Linked DNA regions of Homo sapiens: region 1 is linked to region 2. The links come from fine-mapping of genetic effects on gene expression. Tissue or cell type: whole blood. Region 2 holds a variant in brackets; the other region holds the start of a gene. All regions are shown on one strand. Distances are between the middles of the regions.

Region 1 (8,097 bases), 110 kb after region 2:
ACATGTATAGACAGGAATATGCCTATAGTATAGGAGAAAAAGATGAACATCAAGTTAACCTTGCACCTTAAGACACTGTAAAAATAAGAGCATTCTAAACCTAAAGGAAGCAGAAGGAAGGAAATTTTAAAGATTGGATATAAAATTGATGGAACTGAGTATAGAAAAACAATAGAGAAAAATCAGTGAAACCAAAAGCTGGTTCTTTGAAAGAATCAACAAAACTGACGGACCTCTAACTAGATTTATGGAGAAAAGAAGAGAGAAGATTCAAATGACAAGAAGCAGGAATGAAATAGGGGACACTACTGAAAACCTTATTAAGGAATACTATGACTGCTATATGCCAATAATTATAGATAACTTAGATGAGATTGACAAATTTCTAAAAAGACAGGAGCTGCAAAACCAACTCAAGAAGAAAAATACAATCCAAATAGATTTATAACAAGTAAAAATATCAAATCAGTCAAAAAACTACCCACAAAGAAAAGACCTGGCCCAGATGGCATCAATGCTAAATTCTACCAAACATTTCAAAAAGAATTACCACCAATTTGTCTCAAACACTTTCAAAAAATAGAAGAAGATGGAACACTTTCCACCTCATTGTACGAGCCCGGTATTATAGCCCATTATCCTGGCTACCCCGACAGGAAAGCCAGAAATATATATAACAAGAAAAGCTGACTATAAACCAATACATCTCTGGAATATGAGTGAAAAAATTTTCAGCAAACAGAATCCAGGAACATAAAGCATACATATAGAAAAATTATGACCAAGTGAGATTTATTCCAGGAAAACAAGGTTGGTTTAATAACTAAAATCGAATTACTATAATAAACCACATAGATAGCATAAAAGCTGAAATCCACATGTTCATCTCAACAGACACAGGGAAAGCATTTTTAAAAATCCAACACCTTTTCATGATAAAAACACTCAACAAACTAGGAATAGAAGGAAGTTTCCTCAACTTGATAAAGGATATATACGAAAATCCCATAGCTTACATTTTATGTGATGAAGAAAGACTAGATGCTTTCCTATAAAATCAGGAATAAGACAAGTATGTCTACTCTCACCTTTTCAATGCCACATTGTACTTTAGAATAGCTAATTCTACCCAGGGGGATTAACCAAAATAAATAAATAAAAGATATCCAGATTGGAAAGGAATAAGTAATACCATCTCCATATAGAAAATTCTAAGGAATCAACTAAAAAAACTAAAGTATAGTAGCCCCTCAGTATCCACAGGGGATTATTTCCACGACCCACAGAATGGGAGAAAATAATTGCAAATCACATATCCAATAAGAAAATTATATCTGGAATATGCAAATAACTTATACAACTCAATAAGAAAAAGGCCAAGTACTCATTTTTTAAAATGGCAAGATCTGAGTATTTCTCTGAAGAGAATAAGCAAATTTCTCATAAGGGCATTAAAATGCTTGACATCATTAGCCATTAGGAAAATGACAATCAAACTACAATGAAATACCACTTCACAACCACGAGGATAGGTAGAATCCAAATCTCAGTTAATAAAAAGTGTTGATGGAAACATGAAGAAGTTAGAAGCTTTACACACTGTTGCAGAAATACAAAACAGCACAGCCACTTTGGAAAACATCCTGGCTGTTCCTTAAGTAGTTAATCACAGAGTTACCCTATGACCCGGTATTTCCACTCCTAGGCATATATCTCGGAGAAATGAAAACATACATCCAAACAAAACTTGTACCTCGGTGCTTTATAGCAACATTATTTATAATAGTCAAAAGGTGGAAACAACTCAAATGTTCATCAACAAATGAATGTACATACAAAATATAGTATATCCACACAATGGAACATTATTCTATCTTAAAAAGGAATGAAATACTGGTACATGCTACAAGATGAATGAACCTTGATAATACTGTGCTAGATGAAGTAAGCCAGTCACAAAAGACAACCTATTATATGATTCAGTTTACATAAAATATCCAGAATAGGCAAATGCAATGAGACAGAAAGTAGATTAGTAATTCCTTATCGCTGGGGAGAAAGGGAGGGTGATAGCCGGCATGCGGCATGATAGCCCAGGGTATAGTATTTCTTTCTGATTGATAAATATGTTCTAAAATTGACTGTGGTCATCGCTGCATATACCTGTAAATATACTCTGAATATACACATATCTGTGAAAATGAAAAACCATAGAGTCGCACACTTTGAGTGATTTGTATGGTATATGAACATCTTAATAAAGCTATTTGAAAAAAAGAAGTCTCAATAAATGCATTTTCCATTTACCTCGTCTTCTAGTTTTACTCCATTAAACATAAAGAACTTGACAATGTTACCAATGTTATGAACTTAAAACCTGGTAATGGGTAATATTTGTCTTCAGCAGAGAGATTACAAAGCTATTATATAGAGGCAAAAAAGGGTTATGCGGTCTATAGTAAACATGAAATCATCTTCCTTTATAAACATTGGTCATTTTTTTCCTGGAAATATTTATCTAACTGTAATGAACAGATATATGTTATTACATGTATTTTTTAAAGTTATTCATAAAGATTTAGTAACGCTGTAAGCAAACCAAAGAAGGACCAGAAAAAATATCATTGCAGAAAATAATAAATTTGATTTTAGTATTTTATTTTTAAGTTTTGTATAGGATAGTGTTTGTATTCCCCTTATACAAAGCAAACTTACATCAGTAAAATGAGTTAAGATCAAAAAATGATAAGACAAAACTATACCCTGGACTGCTATAAATGTTGTACATAATGTTTTTTCAAGCTGCAGATGGTTGAACACAGATCAGACTTTTTCTGAAAAACGTAAGGAAACTTGCAATATAAGAACAAGTCACCTTTCATTAATATTCCTATCTGTATGAACACAAAAAACAAGCAAAAAGGGCTAATGAAAGTAGTTTTGGTTTAACTTCACTGTATTTTAAACTAAATGTTCTTTGTCATGGATTAAAGAAGTAGGAGGGGAGTATTCGCTCCACAGAGATCTCTTTTACAGTGCCAAAACTGATTCTAACATATATATACAAAAACCATAATACAGTATAATACGGATATACAAAACTTAACTTGGTGATTTATTGTAGGGATAAAATGTTCACCAATGAATTATTTCTGAGGGTCCGGTTGGAGGTGGAATTCGTGCAGTATGGAATTCAACTCTGTTCTGAGAATTCAGGTCCACTTGCGGCTAGCATACCTTGCAGATCCGGCGAAAGTTTCTTACAGTAAATTACAATGACCTCAAAGAGCAGGATAACAGCAGGAAACAACCAAAAACAGAACCAAGGGTCGTAGAGTAAGAGGAGGCAACAACCGCATGTGCGCAAAAGAAAAGTGTAGAGTTTTCAAGCTGGAAATTGACCTTTTCAAAGACAGCAGAGGGACAGAGAGGAGGCGGGTGAGGAACAAACATCGCTTGCTGCCTTAAAACGCACAGGGACGCTCCCCAAGTCGTCCAAAAAGTCTAGCCTAGTCCCTCTACCGCCCACGCGGCGCCACTGCGCGCCCACCCCCGCGCGCCCTACCTCGCTTACCTTCCCCCCAGGCCAGGAACATCAGCGCGATCACCAGCACGCAGGCTCCGCCAGGCATCGCTGCTTCCGCAGGTGGGGCGAAAGGCGTCGCAGAGCCCGGGCCGCGGGTGCCAGGAGGATGGGGCCACAGCAGCCCCTCGGGCCTCCTTTCTTGGATTTTCTCAGTCTGTTGCTGCTTGGAACAGGGAAGCTCCGCGTCCTCGTTCTGGGGTGCACCCAGTCCTTTCGTGGGATAGAGCCTTCGCGTAATCCGTCTGCGACTCCTCCCTTCCCATTTTGGCTGCTGGCTGACCTGAAAGCCACGCCCAACCTGTCCCCATAGCCCAGCGTGTACCGGCAGTGGCTCCGCCGCCTTGGATGTCACCGTGCAGTCGCACAGCCAGGAGTCAAGCTACAGGGATGTAGCTCTCCGCCCGCTGCGTCTTGCTGTTCTAACAGAGGCTGTATGAAAACTTGGTAATCCTAGAAACTGCTCAGATGGACCTCGCATAAAAGAAGCCTCACAAGGTTCCGTTGGAAGGGGAAGTTTCCCATGATTGTATCTGCAGACGGATTCCTAACTGCGTAATGGGCGCTACTGGTTTGCACCCCAAGGCGAAGGCGCTGAAAATGCTCCTGTCACCTTAGATCTCAGTGATGAACGACAGGAGGAGGAGTAGACACTAACGTTGCAACAGTAGATGCCTTTTCTTCTGCCTCTGTGACAGGTTTTCAGAAGTGGAAAGGACCGCATTTAGACACTAGCCAAACCATGAGGTTTGTCACCTGTATTTGCCAGTGATTCCCAGAGCTCTTACAGTTGTCCCAGGACGCTTTAGCACATGGCCACACGACTCCCAAGGTTGACCTGGGAGTTATTAGAAGATCAGAGGGCTCTAATGTCTTCCCCCAACCTCGTTTTTGTTTTGTTTTGTTTTGTTCGAGACAAGGTCTCACTCTGTCACCCAGGCTGGAGTGCAGTGGCACAGTCACAGCTCGCTGGAGCCTTGAACTCCTGGCGTCAAGCGATCTTCCCCCTCAGTCTCCCAAAATGCTGGGATTACAGGCGTGAGCCACCGTGCCAGGTCTAAGGTCTTCAGAAGTGTGGTTGCCTCTGCAGAGGAACAGGGTCCTTTTTTCAACTGATTCTACATCTTTTTATGTCTGAAAATGAAACCTCACTGTCCTAGTTTTTCCCTGGCTGTCTCATTCCTTGAGTCTCCCATCCATCACCTTGCACTTGGTTCTCACAGAGCCTTTACCTGAAGAGGATAGTTTGGGGGTCCAAGTGGGCACCAAGGTTCCACCCACAAATTTGGAGGTTCAAGGTTGGCCTAGGCATGGTGGTGGAAACAGGAGGTGTCCAAATGCATAAACAAGTATTTTTTTAATTTCATATAATTCTTTATTTTTAATTTGAAAGGTAAATTACCATTTAAAATTTTAAAGCTTATCATCTCCATAGTAAAAATATTAACCCATATTGGAAATAATTTCTTTTTGGTACACAATACTTGTGTGTAGCCATCTTTCAAATGCAGCAAGGGCACCCAATTTTCTGGATTAAAAATAAAATATTACTTTTTGGTGGACGGTAGACAGGTGATTTTTATCTTAAGGCTTAAGTATGGAAGGGCAATATAATGTAGGCACAATGAAAACCCAGAGATTTCTTAGTGTACAGTTAAGTCTTTTGTTTCCGCTTAAAAAATTCTAATAAAACAGACAAGAAATTAAATGTCAGTTTTCTCAATCTATTTGTGAAATCACCAGGAACAAAGTAATTTGATGTGAATCAAATCATAGCAGGACTTTTGTGAATTTATTTTCTAGCAGTATCTATACAAATGTAGTAAACTTTTATACTTTCTTGGAGGACAACATTACTTATCTGACTTCCATCAAAATACAATTTCAGGTATCGTGGGCCTTATTTTTTTCTTCAGTTTTTGATTGTTTATGAGTTTATGAGTTTACAATAAACTTGTGCCAAAACCCAACTTCCCTCCATGTGACTAAAGATGGAAAAAACTAAAAGCAACTTAAGAATTTTTTTTCAAGTCTCAGTAACCTGGCTTGGATCTGCAAGAATGTATCAATTAAATGCTGGTTATATCACGCCTGTAATCCCAGTGCTTTGGGAGGTCGAGGCAGGCGGATCACCTGAGGTCAGGAGTTCAAGACCAGCCTGGCCAACATGGTGAAACCCCATCTCTACTAAAAATACAAAACATTAGATGGGCGTGGTGGCGTTCGCCTGTAGTCCCATCTACTCGGGAGGCTGAGGCAGGAGAATCGTTTGAGCCCAGGAGGCAGAGGTTGCAGTGAGCCAAGATAGCTCCTCTGTACTCCAGCCTGGGCGACAGAGCAAGATTCCATCTCAAAAAAAAAAAAAAAAAAAAAAAAAATTAGTTATAGAACTGTATGGAAAACAAAAAGTAATGAAAATGTTTTAATCTATGTCTCGTGAAGTTAATCAAAAATTGGTATAAGATTCTTTTTTATATTTTTGAACATTAAAAACAATGGATGCATGGTACCCCGCAATATAGAGACTGACAGCACTTGTAAAATGCAGTAAATATCACTGAGACAAATAATAAGAATGTCAGAGGGAAGAAGAAATGAAGCCAAGTGCTAATAAGTACAATATAGCTTAAATTAAAAGATTAACAGGAGAAAATTTTCAAATGATAATTTTCTAGGAAAAGGAGATAACTCAGTTTTTGTCAGGTTAATTTACAAAGTGATGGGCTTGAGTGAAAAAAAATACCAAATTCAAGGGGCAGAAAAACCCAGTGATTAAGTCCACAAATCCTAGGTTAAAAACACCTGGGCTGTAATTCTAGATCTGCTACCTATTTATCAGAAGTGTAACCTTGAACAGCACACTCAACTCCTCTTAACCTCATTTTTCTGTACAATAGAAATGACAATAATAGTACCCCATAGACTTAAAGAATCAAAAGTGTATGTGCATGCCTGTGTGTGGCTGGGAGCGTGGAAGAGCATCTGGAGAAAGAGCACTCAGAATAGCATTTGGTCCAAAGTAGCTATTATGGTCGAATGTAACAGTTTACTGTTATTAGAACTAGGGTAATATTCTACATAATTATACTTTCTCTTATGTCTTATTATATAAAGGTGCATCATTTCTTGGCACTACTCTATTACAGTGTCTGCACAGTTTGGAGTAACCTTCCTGGAAAATACATATTTATGTAACATATGAATTCCTCATCCCATGTTTTACTAAATGAGTGAGCCCTTTTCCAGAAATGTAAAATTGATAGGATTGCTTCTGGGGTTTACTTGAGCTGAACACAAGTACACTCAGAAGCAGAGGCTAAAACATACAGCAGGTCCTTGGTCATTTTGTTTAACGTTATTTTGTTATAACACTGATGGAAAAAATCGATTTCCAGCAGAGGCCAATGTCTATGTGGAATTGGCACGTTCTTTCCATGTCTATGTGGGTCTTCTCTGGGTACTCCCGTTTCCCTCCACTTCTCAACTCTCTGTGTGTTGGGTGAATTGGCATGTCTACATAGGCCCTGCTTGAGTGATTGTGGTTGGGTATGTGAGCGCGCCCTGCGGTAGGATGGCTTCCTGAAGAGAGCTGGTTTACACCTCATGCCCTGAGCTCCTGGTGTAGGATCTGGCCACCTGTGATCCTGAACTGGAGTAAGGAGGTAAATAATTATCTTGTTTTCATTAATCTTTACTCAATGTATGTATAGTTTATTTTACTGTTTAATATTAGAAGTATTTTGGTCTTTTTTTAGAAGTTGGTGATGTTTTTGTGACCAGAAATATGGTATAGTAATTTAACTCATGTTGATATCAATTTGTCTGTAGTAAAACTGGTTTCATTACATGTTGTTTCACTTTACATCGCAGTTTTCAATAACCTATGGACACCGTTGAGGACTCATTGAATGTGGCTATAAGTGTGGTCAAGTAATGAAAACTGATCAGCTGAGGGAGGAAAAAGACAAAAGTGGATGACCAAAATGAAGGTGAGGTGAGAAACAACATGTGAGAATAGAGAAACAGAGAAAAGCACTCATACACGTCCACACGTGCACACACACACAAAAAGACAGAGAGGAAGAGAGACAGACAGACAGTGACAGAAAGAGAGATATGCTAATTCCTGATGGCTTTCCACTCAACAGCTCCAGAATCTTTCGAGGACTGCCTATGTTTCCTGTTTTGGATTAGGAAAATGTGGCACATATACACCATGGAATACTACACAGCCATAAAAAATGATGAGTTCATGTCCTTTGTAGGGACATGGATGAAACTGGAAACCATCATTCTCAGCGAACTATCGCAAGGATAAAAAACCAAACACCGCATGTTCTCACTCATAGGTGGGAACCGAACAATGAGAACACGTGGACACAGGAAGGGGAACATCACACTCCGGGGACTGTTGTGGGGTGGGGGTAGGGGGGAGGGATAGCCTTAGGAGATATACCTAATGCTAATGATGAGTTAATGGGTGCAGCACACCAACATGGCACATGTATACATAT
Region 2 (8,112 bases):
ATTGCCATGTAAACTGCATGCTGCAAACAGTAGCGGTCTTCCTGTCTAGCCCACCACTCCTTGACTGCCCCATACGTAAGTCCTCCATAAACCCTATGTCTTTGTTCTTTGGGTCTGGGTCTCCTCTGTCCTCTTGGACATAGTGCCATCCCCATTGGAGTCAGTAGGGGTTAGTCACAACCGTGTGATGTTTAATTCATACTCATATATGGTTTTCTGTATTTATCAATTAAATATATTTATAAAGAAACTAAATATTAAAAACATTCTTTTAATCACCAGTGGAAATAAAAAGTGAAAAAGAGCTATTAAAACACATTTCAAAGCTAACTATTAAGGTTACAATTTTTAATATAAAGATACTGCTTTTAAATGTAAAATTCAATGAATTTATGCAAAAAATTTTCAAAGCTTAAAAGAAAAATTTAACAAAAGTTATGTTCATATTAGAAAGGACAGCATAAATTTAACAAAAATAACTGTCATAAGTTTCTGAGAACTTTTCTAGGATTTTGAAACCTAACTCATCAGATAGGGCTTCAAAATACAGAGCTTTGTATATGAAGTAGAAATTTATCCTGTAGATGAAGGGAACATCTGGGCAGACTCAGATGAAAACAGAATGCCACAATCAGCTTATAATACAAGCCAATTCAAATGGAAAGAGGCTATTCTCAAAAAAGAAAACCCATTTTGAGAATAAAGGAACATACTCAAAACCTACAATTTATTCTTAATGATGCCTCATTTTTCATTTGCTTTATAGCAGCCTTCTACCCCGGGGCAAAGACTGACAGACTATTCCTTAGTACCTTAATTTTAGCTGTCCCCTTAACTATGACTCTGGGGCTGAAATACATAAACAGGGCAATAAATCAGAAGGAACAAAGAACCTTTAAGACTATAAGGCAGTGGGAGGAAGGAAAGTATGTTGAACAATTCCCTTTACATGTGTCCTTAATAATTGATAACAGGTGTCTAGTTTACTGAGTCCAGTTACACATTTTTTAGACAGATCTATTGTTTATGTTGTTCCCTGTCTAAGCAATACAGAGAGTGCTGTTTCACATTCCCTTCGTGTTATAATCTAGTCAATTCACTTAAAATTAGAATAAATTGCATTTGGTTTTAGAAATATTCATATTTGCCATTTCCTCTGCACATTGAAAATATATAATTTTGTTGGTTTAAAGTGTTGAGGCTCAAAAACTGAAACCACCTTTGCAAAAATTATACAGAAAATTATGACAGTGAAATAGGTCTGACTTAACTGACTTCATCTTGCTTCTAACCTCTAACTGTCCTTGTTCATTCCTGGGTGTAGGCCGAACTAACTTTGGGAGGGACTTAGTTTATAGTTTAACTTTGAAATGACAATAACAGCTTTTTCTCAAAACAAATCCCCTTCCTGCCTGGGGATTAAACTGCCTTTGCAGGACTAACAAATTAGCTACAAGATTAGAAGTTATGGTTTAGGACTCATGCAGCTAGAGGCTGCAAGATTTTGAACCTTTCCAAATTGCTCGTGGGGGTAACATCACTATTGTTAAACCTAAGATTAGTGCTTGAGATCTTTTGCAGACACTGCATTAGATGGATAAGCTGGCATCACTCAGATTGCTAACTGTCTCAACTTGTCTTGCGACCCCCACCCAGGAATCAACTTATCAGAAGAGGACAGCATTGACTCCCTATGATTTCATCAATGACCTGACCAATCAGCACTCCCTACTTTCCATCCCCCTACACACCAAATTATCCTTTAAAACCCTGATCCCTGAGTTTTTGGAAGACTGATTTGTGTTGGGTGATGTACCAGAGCCCCAGCAATGGAAAGTGACTGGCTCGCAGATAGTAAAAAGAATTTACCCACAATGGTATAGTTTTGGAAAGGAAAGTTTTATTGAAAGAAAGAAAAGAAAGAAAGAAAGAACACTGCAGAAGAGTGCAGCAGGGCATCTCAGCAAGAGAGGAGTAAGTGTGTCACAGTGGATTTTTACTTAGCAGTATTTTACGGACCTTAAAGTGGGATCTTAAGGGTAATTTAGACCATATCAGCAGCCATGTAGATCATGATAAATGATTACACTTGTAGACATTTTGGTGTCTCGATGATAGCAATAGGAGACAGTTAAATTCCTAGGCAGACGAACAGGTCCCTGTTGAACCCTGATCTTCAAGCCAAAGACAGCCTGATGCCTGAAAACTGAGCTTCCAGTTCCAGGTAGAGTACATGACCAGAGTAAGAACCTCCTCGATGTCTTTTAGCCAATCGAATGGTGCTTTTTCCAGGCCTGCCCACGAACCAATCAGCATGCACTCCCCAATTCTGAGCCCATAAAAGCCCTAGACTCAGCCTCACAGGTGACTACCTGCTTTTGGGCCCCCTCTCACACACAGAGGTACCCACTTCTGTTCCCCTCTCATGTCAAGAACTTTCCTGTCACTCAGTAAAATTCTTCTCAGCCTTGCTCACTCTCTGCTGTCTGCATACCTCATTCCTCTTCATCATGGGGAAAGAACCTAGAACCTACCAAGTTGTGGGTGTGAAAAGAGCTATAACATGCACTCCCACTCACCAACCTATGGGAGTGAAAAAAACTGCTGGGTGCCATACGCCCCCATTCACTGAACTTCAGGCAGTGGGACTGAATGAGCTGTGACACACCCCCATTCACTGAGCCGCAGGCAGCAGGACCGAAGGAGCTGTGATATGGCCCCATTCCCTGAGCTGCAGGCCACAGGAACAAGAGTAAGCTGTAACACTTCTTGGGGACTCAGACCTCGGGACTCCCTGGGCGAGAGCTGTAACACCCCTTGGGGCTCTATGGTTGTTGGCATATCCAAATTTGGGGCACCACCATGTTCCTCTCATCCAGATGCCGGTGCCCAAGGTGGAAGCTGGTCACAGCCTGCCCAGTCCAGCCACAGGCTGAATGTGGATCTCATGGCGGGCACAAGATCTGAGCCATTGCATGAGCCAAGCTCAGCCTCCAGGGCTGAGTGGGTGGAGTGAGCCCAGTGGGCCTCAGTGAGGCTTCAGGAAGAGGTCACAGCAGCTGCAGAGATTTCCGGCTGGCAGAGCAGCACTGAAAAACATCCTGTAACATTTCCAGGGGCTCATCTGGGATTGGCAGAAGGGTGAATAAGAGTGGACCTCTTTCACTTTCATTCCAAGGCTTCTTGTATGGAGATTTTTTTTTTTCCAAAAACAGATGAGGCATTGGGCCTCTGTTAGCCAGTTAAGAGTGAATGGCATGTCTTCAGAGGACAGGCTTGCTGGGGAGGGGTTTGTCAATCACCCATCGCCCTTGGGTGTTGGGAATGTTGGCTTTGCTTCAATCCAGTTTTCTTCATGGAGGTCTAGCCATTGCATGGAATTGGAAGGAAGTTCTGGGGCAATTATCTGGCTGAGGCTATACTTTGATGTTACCCAAAAGGCCACTGGACTGACTCCAGTCACCAACATCCCATTAGGGTGTTGGTGTTAGGACCTCCAGTCTTT[T/C]CTATGGCATTATCCTTCTTTCTTTCATGGCTTTAGTGGCTTTTATCTTTTCTTTATATATTAATACAATGTTAAGGGTGTTGTTGCAAAGCACAGAGATAATATAAGTGGGTAGAATGTGCATTTGGCTTAGTCATCAGGAGCGTAATTCAGAACAATGTGTTTTCTGTCTATTCTTAGAAGCAAGGAGGATGTAATGATTGAGAGTTTTCTTTCCCCTGTTGAGGAAACCCATTAGCATAGGGCAAGAGGCTACTTTCCCCCAGGCACCTTCCCTCCCCTGCATTTAAGGTTTTTATTTTTTCCCACCATGTCAGTAGTCAATATAGTCCTGTGAATACAGGGAGCTTTTCTATGTGAGGGATTAATTTTTTCCTTTTGGGAGACATCTTATTAGGCCCCAATTCCTGGGACTCGCTTTCTGTCCCTTGTTTGAGGAGCATCTGGTTTTACAGCTTCACTTTAACATCACTCCAGTATATTTTCCAAGCTTTGGAGTCCTGAGGGACCCAGAGGCAGTCAACAGCAGAAGACTAGAGTGCAGCGCAAGCGAGCACGACTACTGCTGCTGACTACTCCTTACCATTTCATGGGTGAAGAACTTGCTCACATTCATAGCACAGATGGGGTCTAGCAAACCCAAAGGTTACCGACAGCAGAAGGCTAGGGCACAGCATAGGTAAGTGCGACTACCCCTACTAACTATGCATTCCCACTTCATTGGTAGAGGTCACACTTGTATTCATGCATGGCACCTATAGAAGCTGCCACAACTCAGGGAAGGAAAGGGTGGCACCTATAGAGGTTGCCAAGACTTGGGGAAGGAAAGGACACTTTTTTTTTTTCCTCACATGCCCTGGGTTTTCACTGAAAGAGAGAAAGGAGCTAAGGGATGCCTTTTACCCTCTCTTTCAAATGGGTAACAAACCATTTTCAGCCTGTACTCCTTTTGAGTGCATCCTGAATCACTGGGAGTCCTTTGACCCTCAGATTAAAAAAATGCCTTATGTTCCTTTGCACTAGGGCCTAGCTGGGTTATAAGTTGCAAAGGGCAATTCCAAACCCCGGAGGTGCCTCCAGCTGGGGAGTCAGCTAAAGCCTTTAACCCAATATTTTTCCTCACCTCTTAGTTGTAGTTCAGGAGACCTCATGTTTACTCAAGACTTTTAAATCATACCTGAAAGCCCAACTCCTCTGCTGAGTATGGATATATTAGCTCATATGGGAACCACCATCCTTATGGCTCTGGGACAGACTCTTTGTCTCCTCCTAGTGGAGACCAACGTTAACCCAGAAGTTTGGGCAACTCAAGGGAAAATTGGCAGAGCCACAACTGCCATGCCAGTCTGGATCCATCTTAAGGACCCTACCTTCTTCCCTAATCAGAGATAATATCCCTAAAACCAGAAATTAGAAATGGGCTAGAAGCCACCATTGATAACTTGAGGATGCAGGGCTTCTTCAAACCCTGAAACAACCCTTTTAATACCCCAGTACTGGAGGTACGTTAACCCAACAGAGAGTGGAGACTGGTCCAGGACCTCTGCCTCGTTAATGAGGCTGTGGTTTGAATTCACCTGGTGGTTCCCAAACCCCTATACCCTGCTTACTCAAATACCTAAGGGAATTAATGGTTCACAGTCTATGACATAAAGGATGTCTTTTTATGCATACTGTTACACCCCAACTCCCAATATTAGTTTGCATTCAAGGATCCATTCAACCAGACCACTCAGCTAACCTATGCAGTGTTACCTCAGGGATTGTGAGACAGCCCCCACTTGTTTGAGCAGGAGTTGTCAAAGTATCTCTGAGTTCTTTTATTCTCAGGTTAAAGTTTTACAATATGTAGATCACATTTTCCTTTGTGCCCCAGCTGAGGAAATCTCTGAGGAGGATAATAAGGCTTTTCTTAATTTTCTGGCTAACAGAGGATATAAGGTCTCAAAATCTTAAGGCTCAGCTCTCTCAGACTTCAGTGAAGTACCTAGGTCTAGTCTTGTTAGAGGGGACCAGGGCAGTAGGGGAATAAAGAATTAAGCCCATCTCCTCCTTTACCCTCCTCAAAACCCTCAAGCAACTGAAGGGATTCTTGGGCATTACAGGATTCTGCAGATTATAGATACCTGGGTATGGAGAAGTAGCTCATTCCTTATATCACCTATTAGGGAGACCCAGGCAGCTAAGACTCACTCCCTAATTTGGGAACAAGAGACTAAAAGGGCCTTTGACCAATTCAAAGAAGCCTTGCTTGAGGCACCTGTCCTTAGTCTTCCCATAGGAGAGACTTAATCTTTATGTATCACAAAGGAAGGAAATGGCCCTGAGAGTTCTAACCTGGGCCTGAGGTTCAGCCCAGCAGCACATAGGCTACTTAAACAAGGAGCTTGGTTTGGTAGCTAAAGGATGGCCAGCCTACCTCTGGGCAGTTGCAGCAGTAGACTTGCTGGTACCAAAGGCTACTAAGTTAACCATGGGAAATAACATAACGATTTATACCCACGTAATGTGGCAGGACTGCTGTCTCCTAAGGAGAGTCTCTGGCAAATGGACAACTGCCTCCTCAAATATCAAGCTCTGCTATTAGAGGGATCTGAAGTCCAGTTAAGAACCTGTCCATCCCTAAACCCAGCCACCTTCCTCCCAAAGGAAGCTGGGGAGCTTGAATATGACTGCAAACAGACAGTAGCACAAACCTATGTGGCCAAGGAGTACCTCAAAGAAACCCCCTTAGAGAACTCAGACTGGACTCTCTTTACGAACAGAAGTTCTTTTGTAGAACAAGGGATCCATAAAGGAGGGTATGCAATAGCCTGAATGACACTGCTGAGAGCGTGCCTGTCCTCAGGCACAAGTGCTCAACTAGCTGAGCTAATTGCCCTCCTGAGGGCACTTGAATTAAGCAAAGGGAAAGCAGTTAACATTTATGCTGAATCTAAGCATGCTTTCCTAGTCCTCCATGCCCATGCCACTATCTGGAAAGAGATGGATTTCCTCACAGCAAATGGGTCTTCCATTAAATACCATCAGGAAATTAACAGACTATTATTCTCAGTTTTCCTCCCATGGGAAGTGGCAGTAACACATTTTAAAGGCCACCAAAAAGGGATGAATGAAATAGCTGAAGGAAATAAGTTGGCAGACCAAGCAGCTAAATTGGCAGTGAGAGGGCCCCAGATATCTGATCCACTTGAGGTCCCTCTGATCTGGGAGGGCTCCACAAGAGAAACAAAACCTCAATATTCTCCTGTGGAAATAGAATAGGCCACCTCTCAGGGATACGCCTTTCAGTCCTCAGGATAGCTACAATCAGAAGATGGCAAACTTCACCTTCTTCAGCTTCCAGCCAATGGAAAGTTCTTAAAATCTTTCACAAGCCTTCTACCTAGGTAAGGATAAAACATATCATTGGCCTAGAGGTTGTTCTCAGGTAAAAATCTGCTAAAAATAGTGAAATAGGTCATTAATGCTTGTGAGACTTGCCTTAAAAATAATCTCAATTGACAGCTTCTCCCCCCTGGAACCCAAGAATGGGAGGCTACCCAGGGGAAGACTGGAAGATGAATTTCACCCATATGCCAAAGATAAGGGACATCCAGTACTTCCTGGTATGGGTAGATACCATCATTAACTGGATAGAAGCATTTTTATGTTGAGCAGAGAAAGCCTATGAGGTGATGAAAGTACTAATTAATGAGATAATTCCCCACTTTGGACTCCCAATGTACCTCCAGAGTGATAATAGTCCCTTGTTCAAGGTAGCTGTAAGCCAGGAGTCTCAAAGGCACTAGGCATACAATACCATCTTCACTGTGCCTGGAGACAACAATCCTCAGGAAAGGTATAGAACACTAATGATACTATCAAAAGGCACTTCAGAAAACTGTCTCTCAAGACACTCATCTCCCTGGATTACTTTTCTTTCCAGAAATGTTCCTTTGAAGCTGGGTTTAATCCCCTTCAAAAAGATATATAGATGGCCTTTTCTCATTAATGATTTCTTGCTAGACCAAGAAACCTCTGGTTTGATTAAATATGTAACTTCTTTGGCCCATTTCCAACAGGAACTAAAACTGTCGGAAGCCCAACCTCATGAACTAGGGCTACTTCTGTTCAACCCATGGGACTTAGTTCTGATCAAGGCACTTCCTTCCTTTTCTCTCTCTCTACGCCCATGTTGGGAGGGATCTTACACTGTACTTCTTTCTACTCCTTCAGCAGTGAAAGTCACTGGAATAGATTCTTGGATTCATTATACTTGAGTAAAGACCTTGGAAAGTGACTTTCCTCTGTTGACCCAGAGGAGCACCCGAAGCACCAGTGTGAAGAAATTGGAGACCTCAAGCTAAAGATCACAAAACATAAGTGTCACTAACATTTTATGGATATCCTCTTTATAGTCTCACCTATGCTTGCTGTTCTTGCCTTCATTCTATTCCTCACCATAAGGCATCTTTGCCAAAAATCCCTTAATCCTGAAAGCCCATGGCATTATCTACTCCCCTAAACAGCTATCTCTTTTCTGAAGTTTAGCTTCCCTACCCCCATTAAAGACTTACTTTCACCAGGGTGAAACAGCTCTGATCAAAACATTGTTTTCAGAATGA

Evidence for each region. PIP is the estimated chance that this variant, and not a neighbour inherited with it, causes the effect.
Region 1: VWDE starts here. The variant in region 2 is fine-mapped to the expression of VWDE in whole blood (TOPMed, PIP above 0.99).

The regions. Positions count from the first base shown.
Region 1 is chr7:12,400,085-12,408,181 of GRCh38, forward strand. It overlaps VWDE (von Willebrand factor D and EGF domains), which reads right to left and starts at 3,781. Exons shown (of 29, transcript NM_001135924.3): 1 at 3,575-3,781. The coding sequence starts at 3,632. LOC105375154 (a long non-coding RNA gene) reads left to right here and starts at 6,054. Exons shown (of 3, transcript XR_927035.4): 1 at 6,054-7,245; 2 at 7,454-7,572; 3 at 7,732-8,097. RefSeq lists enhancers at 3,069-3,636, 3,637-4,202 and silencers at 3,339-3,633, 3,527-3,576, 4,514-4,703.
Region 2 is chr7:12,287,299-12,295,410 of GRCh38, forward strand. No RefSeq gene overlaps it. Among named protein-coding and RNA genes, the nearest start is that of TMEM106B, 80 kb to the left of the region's middle. The variant T/C (reference allele first, on the strand shown) is at 3,506.